Homo sapiens: one gene and its partners. The protein of the gene in region 2 purifies or fractionates together with the protein of the main gene of each other region. This does not show direct contact. Each region holds a gene or a part of one and is shown on either strand. Other genes may lie near its edges.

Region 1 (3,500 bases), on a different chromosome or scaffold from region 2:
GGCTGTGTGGCAGTCGATGACCGGGGAGTAGCCGGCGCTAATCTGCCCCGGGTGGTTCAGGATGATGACCTGCGAGCGGAGCCACAGGCGGCCATCAGGCACATCGGCGGTGGGCACCGGGAGGGCGCCAGAGCGGGGCTGGGAGGCCCAGTCACCGGCGCCCCTGCACGGGCTCCTGGGCCCGGAGTGCTGACTGGAGGGGGCTCAGGCTCTGAGGACCCAGCCCCCAGACCTGAACCTCAACATCCTCATTAAGCAAAAGATAAACAACTGAGATTCATTGTTTCGAAGGGGCAGGGGCAGCACTTACACGGCCAACCCCAGCTGGAACTAAGGCGGGGGGGTGACAAAACTGGACCTCAATTCCTGTGTTTCAGTTGTATCTCAATAAAGCCACTTTTAAAAATCATATGAAGAGGCCAGGCACGGTGGCTCACACCTGTCATCCCAGTACTTTGGGAGGCTGACGCACGTGGATCACTTGAGGTCAGGAGTTCGAGACCGGCCTGGCCAACATGGTGAAACCCCGTATCTACTAATAATACAAAAATTAGCCAGGCGTGGTGGCACATGCCTGTAATCTTACCTACTTGGGAGGCTGAGGCAGGAGAATCACTTGAACCCGGGAGGCGGAGGTTGCAGTGAGCCGAGATCGCACCACTGCACTCCAGCCTGGGCAACAGAGCGAGACTCCGTCTCAAAAAAAAAATAAATAAATCATATGAAGAGGCCAGCAAAGAGGGGCAATGAAGACTGTAGAGAATAAAAGTATGACAGAGATGTCTCAGACAGTAAGTTAACAAAAGCGTTTTTCTAGGACGAATGTAGGACCTCAAAGGCTGGGCATCCCAGCAGTGCAGCGTGGAAGACAGACCCGCGATTGCACACAGGCTGGGAGCCACAGGGCCTGCACCCCTCCCAGAACTGATTGATCCCCTCGTTGAGTGCTCGGTGGCCCCCTCGGTGGTATGCGGGTCCCTTTTCTTTTTTTTTTTTTCTTTTGAGACGAAGTCTCGCTCTGTCACGCAGGCTGGAGTGCAGTGGCGCAATCTCGGCTCACTGCAACCTCCGCCTCCCAGGTTCAAGCGATTCTCCTGCCTCAGCTTCCTGATAGCTGGGACTACAGGCACGTGCCACCACGCCTGGCTAATTTTTGTATTTTTAGTAGAGACGGGGTTTCACCATGTTGACCAGGATGGACTTGATCTCTTGACCTCGTGATCTGCCCGCCTCGGCCTCTCAAAGTGCTGGGATTACAGGCGTGAACCACTGCGCCCAGCCTGAGGGTCTGGTTTTCTCCCCACGCCAGGCCACCTGCCGACAGCAGCCTCACCCAGGACAGTCCTGCTGCTGTCCAGCAGGCGCCAGCCCCCTGGACCCAGCGCAGCCCCCCACCTGGGAGGTGAACTGAGCAGCCTCCTGCGGCGGGTCAGACTTGCTGTCCCCACACACGTTGCCCCGCCGGATGTCCTTCACCGACACGTTCTTCACATTGAAGCCGACGTTGTCGCCGGGCAGAGCTTCGCTCAGAGCCTCGTGGTGCATCTCCACTGACTTCACCTCAGTGGTGATGTTCACTGGCGCAAAGGTCACCACCATGCCCGGCCGCAGGATGCCGGTCTCCACCCGGCCCACGGGCACCGTGCCAATGCCTGCAGAGGGGAGGGGGTGTGAGGGGAAGGTGGGGCCCGAGGGGATGCTGGGGCAGGATATTCGGGGACAGAGCCTGGAAACCAACAAAGCCTGGGACTGGATCCCCCCGACAGGCCTGGGGGTTGGGGCCACATGGGCGGAGTGCAGGGGAAGGGAGGCCAGGGACAAGGGCAGACACAGAGATTCCAAGGGAAGTGGGGGCTCTCCCACCCAGCTGGGGAAATAAGAGGCTGAGCAGCAGAGCTCCCAGGAACCCACGGAAAAGCCACAGGGACAGAGAAGCGGGAGGATGGGCAGAGAGGGGCTGTCTGAACCTGGGGTCCCATCCTTGCCCCCGGAGAGCACTTTCCCTCAAAGGAGGCACTATGGGACCCCTCCTTTGTCTGAGGACTCCTCCCTGTGAGTGTGGGCGGGGCGACTGACTGCTTCTGCCTGGGGCCTGGTGGCCCTGCTCCCTGCTCCCTGCAGGCCCTGCTCCCTGCTCCCTGCAGGCTCTCTGGGCCCCACTTGGATGCTGCAGGTCTCTATCACTAAAGGGGCCTCTCAGCCAGATGCAGCACAGGCACAGCGGCACATGAGCGTCCCTGGCATTTCTCATGGATCTACTTAAACCAATTGTGCAGCTGCCACATGGGGGTCTTGTCCCCCCCCAGGCTACTGGGTCTCCACCCTCACCTCCCAGGGCTGTGAGGGAGGCCTGTTGTAGCCTCCAGCCAACTTCACTGAGGCCAGTGGCTGTGCTCTGTGCTGGGGTGAGCATGATGCCCCCACAGTGCACACAGAGATGCCTGCAACATCTTTGGCTGCAGCCCACTGGCTGGGGGTCTCCTATCAGTGCCCTTCTCTAGGGTCTCAGATTTGTTTATGGTTTCTCTTCTTGGTGGGATGGATGGATGGATGGACGGATGGATGGGGAGGTGGGTGGATGGATGGATGGATGTATGAATGGGGTGGTAGATGGATGGGGAGGTGGATGGACAGAAGGATGGGTGGGGAGATGGATGAGTAGGGAGATGGATGGATGGATTGGTGGATGGATGGATGGATGGATGGATGAGGAGGTAGATGAGTGGATGGACAGAAGGATGGATGGGTAGGAAGGTGGGTGGATGAATGGATGGATGGGGAGGTGGATGGATAGATGGATGGATGGATGGATGGATGGATGGATGGATGGGGGGATAGATGGATGGATGGATGGATGGACGGACGGATGGGGAGGTGGATGGATGGATGGATGGATGGATGGATGGATGGATGGATGGATGAGGAGATGAACGGATGGATGAGATGGATGGATGGATGATGGAGGGAAGGATGGCTGGGTGGGGAGATGGATGGATAGAGAGGTGGATGGGTGGATGGGGAGATGGATGGATGGATGGATGGATGGGGAAGTGGATGGATGGGGAGGTGGATGGATGGATGTATGGGTGGGTAGGTGGGTGGATAGATGGATGGATGGATGGATGGATAAATGGATGGATGGAAGGATGGATGGATAGGTAGGTGGGTGGATGGATGGATGGATGGATGTACAGAAGGATGGATGGGTGGGTAGGTGGGTGAGTGGATGAATGGATGGATGGATAGATAGAAGGATGGATGGGTGGGTCAATAGATGGATGGATAGAGAGAAGGATGGATGGGTGGGTAGATGGATGGATGGATGGATGGATGGATAGAGAGAAGGATGGATGGTTGAGACAATGGATGGATGGATGGATGGATGGAGAGATGGATGGATGGATGGATGGACAGAAGGATGGATGGGTGGGGAGGTGGATGGATGGATGGAAGGATGGATGGATGGATAGAGAGAAGGATGGATGGGTGGGACAATGGAT
Region 2 (3,500 bases):
CACTCAGCCTCCCTCTCCCCTCCCTCGCTCCTGCTGCCTAGTGTGGGCCCTTGTGATGACAGTGGGCCCACCTGGGTGATCCAGCATCCTCTCTGCCGCTTAACTTAATCTTATCACATCTACAGAATCCCTTTGCCATGGGAGACCATATTTACAGGCTCTGCGGACTCGTATGTGGCTTTGTGGGGGCCATTGTTCTGTCTGCCACAGCCACAGCCACCTAGGGGTGTGCTGGCTCCCGGGCCATAAGCTGGGCATCCCTGGGTGGGTGGGCCCAGGAAGGGCTGCCACTCCTGTCTGCCAGGTGGGGTGCTCCTTTGTGCCTTGCGTTCTGCCCACTGGCTTGCACCCCTGGCTTGCCCAGGCACCTGACCAAGTCCAGGCTAGGCAGACATGAGATTAAGGGAGCACAGATTTTTGCGCCCAAGTCAGGCATATTGCACTCCAGTGCCCAGAAGGCAGCGGTCGGGGGCTTGGCCCTGGGGCTGCAGGAACTCTTCAGCCCTGGCTGTGTGGAGTCAACCCTAAGGTGTCTCTGGGACAGGCAGGTGGTCGCACTGTTAGGGCTTAGGGACTGGTTTGCTGCTATAACAAAGGTCCATAGACTGGGTGACTTAAACCACATGTATTTTCTCACAGCTCTGGAGGCTGGAAGTCCATGATCGAGGTGGCAGCAAGGCTGGTTTCTCCTGAGGCCTCTCTCAGCATGTAGACCGTCTTCTCCATGTCTTCACACGGTCATCCATCTGAGTGTGTGTGTGTCCTGATGTCTTCTTATTGGACACCAGTCAGATTGGATTAGCCCCCTGCCCCTCAGTGACAGTTACCTCTGCAAAGGCCCTGTCTCCAAATAAGGTCACATCCTAAGATACCGGGGGATAAGACTCCAGCATGTGGATTTGGAAGGACATTATTCAGCCCATGGCAGGGGCCCAGTCTCATCTTGGATTTGGGGTGGGAGTGCTCAGCAGACACTGGGGTTTCAGAACTGCAGGGTTTCTGGTAGCGTGGTGCTGGCACAGGGTTACAGGCATGGGTCTGGCTCTGAAGTGTTTGCCTTTGGCATCCCCCAAGTCCCTGAGGGGCTCTCTGAGGCCCGCTGTGACTGCACTGGGTGACCTGAGCCTGCCCGTTGAAGCTGTGCTCAGGGATTCTGATGCCTGGCATCCCTAGTCCCCCCTGAGTCAGCATCAAAGGAGGGGACTCTCCCTGTGTCCTGAGTGCTGTGGGCTCTGGCCTAGTGGCCCGCAGAGCCAGGCAGTGGTGAGACGGCCCCCGCTGCTCATCATGCAGCCCGGGGCCAGTGCTGACTTAGTGCCTCTTCCAGAGGGGACCTTTTCCCTGTCCTTGGGCCTGCTGTGTGGGGTGCATGAGGCCTCAGGTGCCACTCACAGACTCCGGCCTCCTCAGGACCCAGCCCCACTCCCGCGGGAGGTCTGCTGTGATTCTCCATGCCCCCTGGCGCCCCAAAGCCTGGCCCTCCCGTGCTCCGGCTTCTGCCCCCGAGTTTGTCAGTTTCTGCCGGTGCCTCCCGTACCCCCACCACCATTCACGCGCCTCTGCCAGCCTGGCCTTTCCCTGTCCATTTCCTCCTGGCCTTGCTGCCAGGTGGGCCTCCTGGGCCAGTTTGGCTCGGCCTTGCCCATGATCTGCGGGGCTTAGCTCCCACACCCTCCAGATACATAAACAAGCATTCCCCACAGCATGGTCCCAAGGACGGTGGCAGGAGGGCCCCAGGGATGGGTTTGCACGTTGGGCAAAGGCCTGAGTATGTCCGCACCTGCTGCAAGGAGCGGCTTTGCCTGCCCGGCTACTCCAGGCCCCTCCCCACAGAGAGGGAGCCCCGGGGAGCTGCCGAGATGGGGTTTGCTGAGAGCTCCATGCAGCCAGGTGCACCCTGTCCTTCGAGCCATCCTGTTGGAGGGTGGGCAGGCTAAATGGCCCATGCGTGCAGGTAGATGCTTAAGGACTGGCTAGTGTTAAGGGCCAGGAGGCTGGGATCCTGTCTGGGCCCCGAGGTATCAGTCTCAGCTATGGCAGAGTATGAGGTGGGCTTGGGGCCCTGGATCACCTAGAGACTGGCTTGCTGAGTGAGATGGCAGGCGTGAGGCCCAGGGAGACAAAGCTTTGGGTGGCTGCTGTCCACACAGGTGGGCTCCTTCCTTCTTCCCCCACTGGGCCCTCAGCTGCTCCCGCCTCCCATTTCCAGTGCTGCCTGGTCCCCTGAGGCGTGTCCCAGGTTGTCCCTAGGACTGTGAGTCCTTCAGCACCTCCCACCCAGCCTCTGAGCCTGGCTGCTCAGCAGGATTCCGCCGGGCAGCAGCAGCCATGGCCCAGCTCCCCACAGCCTCCGTCTCTGGGGCACCAAGAGCCTCCTGTCCTGGACTTTGCCTGGCTGAGAATTTCACTGTGGTCTGTGGTGGCCGCCACCTCTGAGGTCATAAGTTTGAGCTGGGCATCAGCGGGGGGCACCTCCTGCTCTCCCGAGCTGTAGTTTTCCTTCCGTGAGTTCCTGCAGTCCTGAGCATGGCAGGGGGACCCTAGGAGCAGGCTGGGCACTGAGCCCTCCCCTCCTCCTGCCTTGCAGAGCTCAGGCCCCGGGGCCTCCAGCGGCACCAGCGGAGACCACGGTGAGCTCGTCGTCCGGATTGCCAGTCTGGAAGTGGAGAACCAGAGTCTGCGTGGCGGTGAGGCCCCGGGCCAGTGGGTTGGGGCTGTCCCTGGCCCCTGCCATCTAACCGTGCTCCCCTTGCCCCCCCAGTGGTACAGGAGCTGCAGCAGGCCATCTCCAAGCTGGAGGCCCGGCTGAACGTGCTGGAGAAGAGCTCGCCTGGCCACCGGGCCACGGCCCCACAGACCCAGGTGAATGCTCTCCCCACGCCTGACACTGCAGGGGACCACGTGGCCCTGCTGGCTTCCACGTCGCCCTGTGGGCTGGCCCCAGCAGCAGTGATGAGCTGGCAGCCAGGATACTGGAGTCCTCAGGTCCCCAGGAAGGTTTACAGTTAGCCCTGGGCAGGTGGAGGCAGTTTTTGTCTTTCCTGGGGCCCTGCATGTACACAGCTGCGGTACACAGGGGCTGCCCTTCCTCCAGTCAAAGGAGGGAGGAGGGCCAGGAGGTGGCCAGGCAGCTCTGGGCCCTGGTTGGGGCGTCTCAGCCGTGCCTCCTGTCCCTTCCCCTGTGGCAGCACGTATCTCCCATGCGCCAAGTGGAGCCCCCAGCCAAGAAGCCAGCCACACCAGCAGAGGATGACGAGGATGATGACATTGACCTGTTTGGCAGTGACAATGAGGAGGAGGACAAGGAGGCGGCACAGCTGCGGGAGGAGCGGCTACGGCAGTACGCGGAGAAGAAGGCCAAGAAGCCTGCACTGGTGGCCAAGTCCTCCATCCTGCTGGATGTCAAGCCTGTGAGTGGGCGGGGTGGGGCTTCAGGGGGCCAGGCACTGCCCTGGTGCCCGCCTAGCCGGCTCAGCCTGTGACCCTCCCCCTGCCCTCTG
Region 3 (3,500 bases), on a different chromosome or scaffold from region 2:
ATTGCCCTGCAAAACCTCTAGATGCTGTGGGAGACTGGGTCCAGGCTGCTTAGTGGCTCAGATACTGAGATTCTTCTCCTAAGACATTGAGATCCCCACTCCTCTTGAGTGGTTATAGAGGAAGGAAACAGAGTAGGAATCAAATCCAAATTTTGACATGAGGGCATTTTAAAGAAGGGACTGAGAAGGGAGACTGTTTTCAATGTCTTGGCATTGTGTTCTAAGAAAAATCACTCTCGGCCGGGCGCGGTGGCTCACGCCTGTAATCCCAGCACTTTGGGAGGCCAAGGCAGGCAGATCACGAGGTCAGGAGATCGAGACCATCCTGGCTAACACGGTGAAACCCTGACTCTACTAAAAATACAAAAAACTTAGCCAGGCGTGGCGGCGGGTGCCTGTAGTCCAGGCTACTCGGGAGGCTGAGGCAGGAGAATGGGATGAACCTGGGAGGTGGAGCTTGCAGTGAGCCAAGATCGCGCCACTGCACTCTAGCCTGGGCGACAGAGCGAGACTCCGTCTCAAAAAAAAAATTTTCAAAAAAAAAAAAATCACTCTCATCACAGAAGGAACACATTACTTTGACCTTTCTAAGACCTTCACAAGAAGAGGGTTTAAAACACTCATGACGAAGAAACTTCCTAGCATATGCTCTCCCTGGGGACAACTCTATCAGCTGCTGTGGCAACACACTTCTCCCACACTGTCACTCGGCGTTGAGCGAGACTGAGTCACACTTTTCATTCCAGTCTTAACCTCTACAAAGTCTTAGGGGAGCTCATGGAGGCCTTTGAATCCTGGGTAAGGCAGCATTTATATTTCCAAATGGGTTCTGACCTCTGGCCGTGGGCAGTGACAGTGTGATCCACAGCCAGGGCACTCTCACGTTTGATCATCGAGGGAGGATACCAGGAACTGGCCTTCCGAGAACACACTCTCAAGCTGGGTGTTAAAAAGGAAATCGCACCCTGCTCAGCCATGGATGGATTCAGTGGGTAGGAGGATGGGGACAAGAAGGTCTGGAACATGGTACAGTCAACCCTCACTTTTTGGCAGGTACCCACCAACCAAAACTCCTCTGGGTACTTACAAGATTTCTCAGAACTCTGCCAAAATGGACACCACATTATAATCACTACATTCAAAAATCCTAAGGCCAGGCATGGTGGTACAAGCCTGTGATCTTAGCACCTTGGGAAGCTGAGGAGGGAGGATCGCTTGAGCTCTGGAGTTCAAGGCCAACCCAGGCAACATAGTGAGACCCCATCTCTATTTAAAAAAAAATAAAAAATCCTCTAAAACACTCCCCTTCTCTAGAGAAACGAACATTAGGGGCCTGGGTCACCCTCACTGAGGCTCCATAAACCCCGAATCGTTTCCCAACAACCATGTGCTCGAGGGGTGGTCTTTACCGAGTCGCGATTGGCACTGGTTGCAGACCGTGACACAGTGAACAGCCACGCACAAAGCGGGGCCTGTTCACAGCCGAGGACTGTGGGGCTCTGTGCAGCCTTGTGGTTTCCAACTTCTAAACTCCAGCAGAAAAGCCAAGGCTGGAAAATGAACTTTTAATCTTACTCAACATAGGCAAACACAGAATACAAAAACATATTCTCTGTTGGGACCCAGAATCGAGAAAAACAAACTCGGGAGAATATTTTTCCTTTGCAACGCACACAAATATATGTTTTATAGCAGCACAAATGTGTCTTCCCAACTTTTGCAGAAAAAGAAATTACATCCCCACCACTAATTCCCAAGTTAGAATTTTTTAAAAGAAATCTTTCACAAGAAAATGAAAAGCCCTAGTCTTAAGTAGTAATACACTGAAACATTTAAGGCTAAGGCAATACCACCACGGACAGCAAAGAAATCGAAATGAAAAACAACCTTTCTGCTGCTTTGCAGAGTCAGCTTCAGTGAGGCGTAAACATCATGCTGGGAGATCCCTGATTCACAGAAATGATGAAGCCAGGGATGCCTCTCAAATTCGGTTCTCACAATCAGCATTCCGGGAGATTTGCTCCTGAAATCCACACCATGATAAGAGGCCCCCAACAGAAACCTCTTCTAGGGCTTCCTCCACTGCACCAGAGTTAGGGCAGATGTGTGCCCACCCATACCTTGTAGGGTCTGACCACAGGGATCTATATTCTGTCAATTCCAGAAACTTCTGTCAAATACGTACTTTTACTCCCTGCAGTGGTCCTCCCTTATCCTCTGGGAAACTTCCCAACACCCCCAGTGGGTCTGAAACTGCAGTAATACTGAATCCTATATACACTATTTTTTTCCTATACCTACATACCTATGATGAAATTTAATTTAGAAATTAGCCACAGTACGAGATTAACAATAATAAAATAGAACAATTATAACCATATGCTAGCATCACCACTCTTGCACTTTGGGGCCATGATTAAGTAAAGTAAGGGTGACTCAAACACACGCACTGTGATACCAGACAGTGGATCTGAAAGCTGAGAGGGCCACCAAGTGACGCACAGGCAGGTAACACAGACGGCGTGAATCCACTGCACACGGGATCGTTCACATCCCAGGCAAGACGCTACTCAGAATGGCATGCAACTTAAAACTCAGGAAGAGTTTCTTTCTGAAATTTTCCATTTAATATTGTCAGACCACAGCTTTCTGCTGGTAACTGAAACCACAAAGAGTGAAACCATAGATAAAGGGGGACTACGATATTGCTAACATACTCAGACTGTAAGACAAAAAGATGAAGGCCCCAAGAGGGAAGGATGTAGGAGGCTGCGCAGAGGCTGGACAGACTGAACTCACTGGCCCACCTCTAAGATCTTGAGAGAATGGCTCTTCTTCTGTTCTTAAGATTCGGGGAACAAAAGTAAGAGGAAGCCCCAAACTCTTTAGACACAGAAGATATCTGCTAATTCACATGGCCCGGCCAAGCCAGTTGGGTCCAATTTGGCAGCTGGGATTTTGGTAGGTTTTGTGAAAAGACCCTCAACAGCTCCCAGGACTCTGTCTCATTACTAAGCAGCAGCTCCACGGGGGACCGTGTGTGGAAGCTTGGAGAAGCTGTGGGGTAGGGGTGGACAAAGAAAACCAACCCCCAGATCCATTTCCTGGGCATAAGGTGACCTGCTAGGAAGGTACAGAACTAAAACAGAATGACAATAAAACAGAGACCCTAGCAGACATGGCTACATCAGAATCAACAGCTCCTAATTTTTAAAATATTATGAAATGACTCATACAAAAGACTAAAAAGAAAAATATGAACATCCATTAGCCTACCACCCAGGTTTACCAAACCCTAACATTTTGCCATATGCACTTTAGATATTTATTTATATATATATGTATGTGCCTGTGTATACATATATATGTGGGGGGGGGACACACACACATGTGTATATGTATATATATGTCATCTCCCTTCTAGAGGGGGACAACACCCTGAATGGGCCACTTACCACTTCCACCTGCTTTTGCTTCTATTACATGTATCTATCTCTACC
Region 4 (4,204 bases), on a different chromosome or scaffold from region 2:
CCACCCTTCATTGCTGGTTCAGAGCCAGCTCTGACCACATTCCTACCCTGAGATGGGACTCTGGGGACATTGTCCACCAGGGTCACTGACCCCTTTTAACGTTCCAGAAACATGGCCAGCTGGTCCCCTAGAAGTTTGGTATATGGGATAAGCCAAGGCTTGCCTTCAGCAACAGGTTTTCCACCACGTCACTGCCCAAGGCCCAGGGCATCCCCAAGTTCATGTGAAGCCTGCCTGCCATGTCCACAGCCCATACCGACCCCTCCTGGAGCCACTGGAATGCTTGTTCCTGGGCATGTGATGAACCCAGACAGCTTCCGCCTTGCAGGACAACTATGCGCATCTGGCAGCAGTAGCCAGAGGGCCCATAGAAAGAAGATGGAGGCAAAACCAGATGCTGTGAGAATACTTTATTAGTCAAAACCGCATACTATAAAAATGCTTTAAAACGCAGCAGGAGATGTGAAGACACAAATTAACAAGCGTATAGTGACACATGGCTGTCAGAACACAGTAAAGAATCCACACTGCTTCCCCCCTTTACCTAGAAAAGGAGAGTTCTAGGCCACCTCCTCCTCGGCATACTCCTCATCCTCCTCCTCCTCGGCCGTGGCATCCTGATATTGCTGATATTCAGACACCAGGTCGTTCATGTTGCTCTCGGCCTCGGTGAATTCCATCTCATCCATGCCCTCGCCCGTGTACCAGTGGAGGAAGGCCTTGCGCCTGAACATTGCTGTAAACTGCTCTGAGACACGCTTGAAGAGTTCCTGGATGGCCGTATTATTCCCAATGAAGGTGGCTGACATTTTTAGCCCCCGGGGTGGGATGTCACAGACGGCTGTTTTTACGTTGTTGGGGAGCCAGTCAGCAAAGTAACTGCTGTTCTTATCTTGAATGTTGAACATTTGTTCATCCACCTCCCTCATGGGCATGCGACCCCTGAAAATGGCAGCCGCCGTTAGGTAGCGGCCGTGACGGGGGTCACAGGCAGCCATCATGTTCTTAGCATCAAACATCTGCTGGGTAAGCTCAGCCACAGTCAAGGCCCGGTACTGCTGGCTGCCCCGGCTGGTCAGTGGGGCAAAGCCGGGCATGAAGAAATGCAGCCGGGGAAACGGGACCATGTTCACGGCCAGCTTCCGCAGGTCAGCATTCAGCTGGCCCGGGAAGCGCAGGCACGTGGTGACCCCACTCATGGTAGCAGACACCAGGTGGTTCAGGTCACCATAGGTGGGTGTGGGCAGTTTTAGGGTCTTGGAACATATGTCATACAGAGCTTCGTTATCTATGCAAAAGGTCTCATCTGCGTTTTCTATGAGCTGGTGGACTGAGAGGGTGGCGTTGTAGGGCTCCACCACGGTGTCCGACACCTTGGGCGAGGGCAGGATGCTGAATGTGTTTATGATCCTGTCTGGGTACTCCTCCCGGATCTTACTGAGCAGAAGGGTACCCATCCCAGACCCAGTCCCCCCACCCAGGGAGTGGGTCAGCTGGAAACCCTGCAGGCAGTCACAGCTCTCAGCCTCCTTTCTGACAACGTCCATCACTGACTCCATCAGCTCCGCGCCTTCGGTGTAGTGTCCCTTGGCCCAGTTGTTTCCGGCCCCACACTGACCTGTAAGACAGCACAGCCGGTCACTCGACGGCCAGGTATACGGTCATCAGTGGTCACCACCATAATGCAGAAAGAGCCAAGCGTCACACGTGAGGTGAGAGCACCGTTCGCCCTGCAGGTGGAGCAGATGAAACCCCCTCCCCCAGAGTTACAGGACAGCAGCTTCCCCTGTTAGGAATTAAGACAGGAGTCAAACCTGAGACGGGTTCACAGACCTCGCTGCAGGTGGCTCCTGCCCATTCTCAGGAAAGGCAGTAGCCACGGCCCCAGCTCAGGTTCTTGCAGGGAGTTTACATCAGTAACTCCTCACCTTGAGGAGACACCAGGGCCTTCCTCCCGAAGCCCATTTAGGAGAGGCAGATTGAGCGACTCGACTCGGAGGATAGGAGGGTGTTCAGGGGCCCTAGCTCCACAGTTCCCAGAGGATGACCTTAGCACACTCCTGGATTTTGAGCTGCCCTGGCTAAGGAGCCGCACCCCAGTCCTCGCCCGCAGCTCACCGAAGATGAAGTTGTCTGGCCTGAAGACCTGCCCGAAGGGCCCCGAGCGCACAGAGTCCATGGTGCCCGGCTCCAGATCCACGAGCACAGCGCGGGGCACGTACCTGCCACCTGCGTGGGGCGGGAGGGCATGAGCGAGGGGAGGGCCGCGTTCCCAGGAGGGCGGTGGGGGAAGGACGGGGGTCTCACCGCTGGCCTCGTTGTAGTACACGTTGATGCGCTCCAGCTGCAGGTGGCTGTCCCCGTGGTAGGTGCCAGCGGAGTCGATGGCATGTTCATCAGAGATCACCTCCCAGAACTGCAAGAGACGGGAGGAGACAGACAGGCCGGGGCTGAGTCAGGGAGGCGCCCCAGCCGCTCTCCCACCCCCACCCTCATCCGCACCCCCATCCCTAGGCCGCCCTGTCCCTGGGGTCCACCCCGGCCGCCTCGCCAGCCACCCGGTTCCACCGTCCCCGGCAGGGAGCCCAGGGGCCGCAATGCATGGGCACCGCCCCCGCCACTGCCAACACCTTCCCCGGCCACCCGGCAGGCCCGGGCTAGGCCCTCAGAGCCCCGGCTGCCAACCTTGGCGCCGATCTGATTCCCGCACTGCCCGATCTGCGTGAGCACGATCTCCCTCATGGCCAAGGCGGGATTAGGACGGCAGGAGAAACGTGAGAAGGAGGAGCAGACGCGCAGCGACCCAGCCCGCCCTCCGCCAACGTTTAAATAGCCCCGCGCCCACCTCCCTCCGCCTCGGATTCGGCTCCCAGAATAAGCAACAGCTTTACTTCCACACAGGTGCACCCACCTGTGGATCCCCTGGCGCTGAACATCTGTTGGAAAGCTCAGGTGTCCTTGCGTGGTCCTTTCCACGTTGGGGAAAGCTGCTCGCTGGAGAACTTCCTCCCGCGTCTTTAGTAAGACTAAATCCCTAGCTGAGCTGAAACTGAATTTTCCTCCCATGTGGGAGGGGAAGACTCTTGTTTCCATATGCACGGAGTGCCTTTGCACCTGTCCTAGATTGATGACATATTTTTGTAATTGATGAGTCTTTTCATCTATTAGGAGATCTGTGGTTAGGAAAGGCCTTCCACATGTGAACTCAACAGGACTCAATTATACGTTTTACTTTGGAGCAGTTCTAACCCACAATAAGCTATGGGTGTTAGAGACAGTCAGGCCTCTGATTTAGCTGGAGTCTTCTTTAGAGTAGGGTTAGCCCTTTCACCTTTCCAGAGGACTGTGGTCTCCAGCAGAGTGAAGGTCATATTGGATTCTTAAAGCTGAGGACAGGTTTTGGGATACGCCTGCTGTGAAAGATGGGCCATTGTCACTTTGCAGGCTTTTGGATTACCCAAACTGAGGAGTTATTTCTTCTGGTAAACATTTTTCAGATGGGGTGGGGAATGCCTCGATCTAACCAGTGAAGGTGTCAGTAAGCATTAGCAAATATTTGAATCTCCTGCAGAAAGGCTTCCGGGTAAATTAGAGTGGCCAGTTCTCACCTGGATAGGTTCCTCAATTTTGGACAGGTTTAACTGGAGAAGGAGAAAATTGCTGGCCATTTGAGTCATGTCAGGCACAAAGCTCACAGGGCTGAGTCACCTGTTTTAGTGTCTTGAAAAGATTTACCCCTATAAACAAATGAGACATTAACAGAAACAAAGAATCCCTTCTAGGGTGAAAAGAATCATGAAAGTGCTGAGTTATACTCCTGTGATTGGTACTTGGCATTAGTAATTTATTACCATCATTCAGCCCGAGGGGCCCTGGACTGAAATGCAATCCCTGGCCCATTTTCGTTCTTCTTCAGGGTATTCTGGCCCAGTTCTATGTATGCTGACCAGCACGCCCACAAGCTTCATTGGCCCTTTCAGTGCAGGGGCCTTGGCTGTGGCATCTACAAGGGCATTTCCTTTTACATGGTCAGTCTCTCTTTTGATGTCCTCTGCAATTAATTATACTCACTTTTTGGCAGCAAAGCAGCACTCTAACAAGCTCAAAATCTGAACGATGTTGTATGGAAAAGCCCTTGGGGGTCAGGAGTCCCCACCCATTCCAAATTGCAGCATAAGCATGAAGCACTAAAAAATCATACTTG

What was found. The genes of interacting proteins can lie anywhere in the genome.
Region 1: the proteins of EEF1D (region 2) and EEF1A2 purify together in Homo sapiens (co-immunoprecipitation; 4 studies listed by BioGRID and IntAct, with this or other methods). This does not show direct contact.
Region 3: the proteins of EEF1D (region 2) and RRBP1 purify together in Homo sapiens (affinity purification with mass spectrometry; 3 studies listed by BioGRID and IntAct, with this or other methods). This does not show direct contact.
Region 4: the proteins of EEF1D (region 2) and TUBB8 purify together in Homo sapiens (affinity purification with mass spectrometry; 2 studies listed by BioGRID and IntAct, with this or other methods). This does not show direct contact.

What each region holds. Positions count from the first base shown.
Region 1 is NC_000020.11:63,489,084-63,492,583, forward strand, and holds part of EEF1A2 (elongation factor 1-alpha 2), read right to left. Parts: intron 1,653-3,500; coding exon 1,396-1,652; intron 70-1,395; coding exon 1-69. UniProt on the Homo sapiens protein: Translation elongation factor that catalyzes the GTP-dependent binding of aminoacyl-tRNA (aa-tRNA) to the A-site of ribosomes during the elongation phase of protein synthesis.
Region 2 is NC_000008.11:143,580,416-143,583,915, reverse strand, and holds part of EEF1D (elongation factor 1-delta), read left to right. Parts: intron 1-2,587; coding exon 2,588-2,687; intron 2,688-2,761; coding exon 2,762-2,862; intron 2,863-3,188; coding exon 3,189-3,410; intron 3,411-3,500.
Region 3 is NC_000020.11:17,661,743-17,665,242, forward strand, and holds part of RRBP1 (ribosome-binding protein 1), read right to left. Parts: intron 1-3,500. UniProt on the Homo sapiens protein: Acts as a ribosome receptor and mediates interaction between the ribosome and the endoplasmic reticulum membrane.
Region 4 is NC_000010.11:46,497-50,700, forward strand, and holds TUBB8 (tubulin beta-8 chain), read right to left. Parts: upstream 2,801-4,204; 5' UTR 2,743-2,800; coding exon 2,686-2,742; intron 2,417-2,685; coding exon 2,308-2,416; intron 2,230-2,307; coding exon 2,119-2,229; intron 1,963-2,118; exon of another isoform or gene 1,929-1,962; intron 1,787-1,928; coding exon of another isoform or gene 1,619-1,786; coding exon 561-1,618; 3' UTR 392-560; downstream 1-391. UniProt on the Homo sapiens protein: Tubulin is the major constituent of microtubules, a cylinder consisting of laterally associated linear protofilaments composed of alpha- and beta-tubulin heterodimers.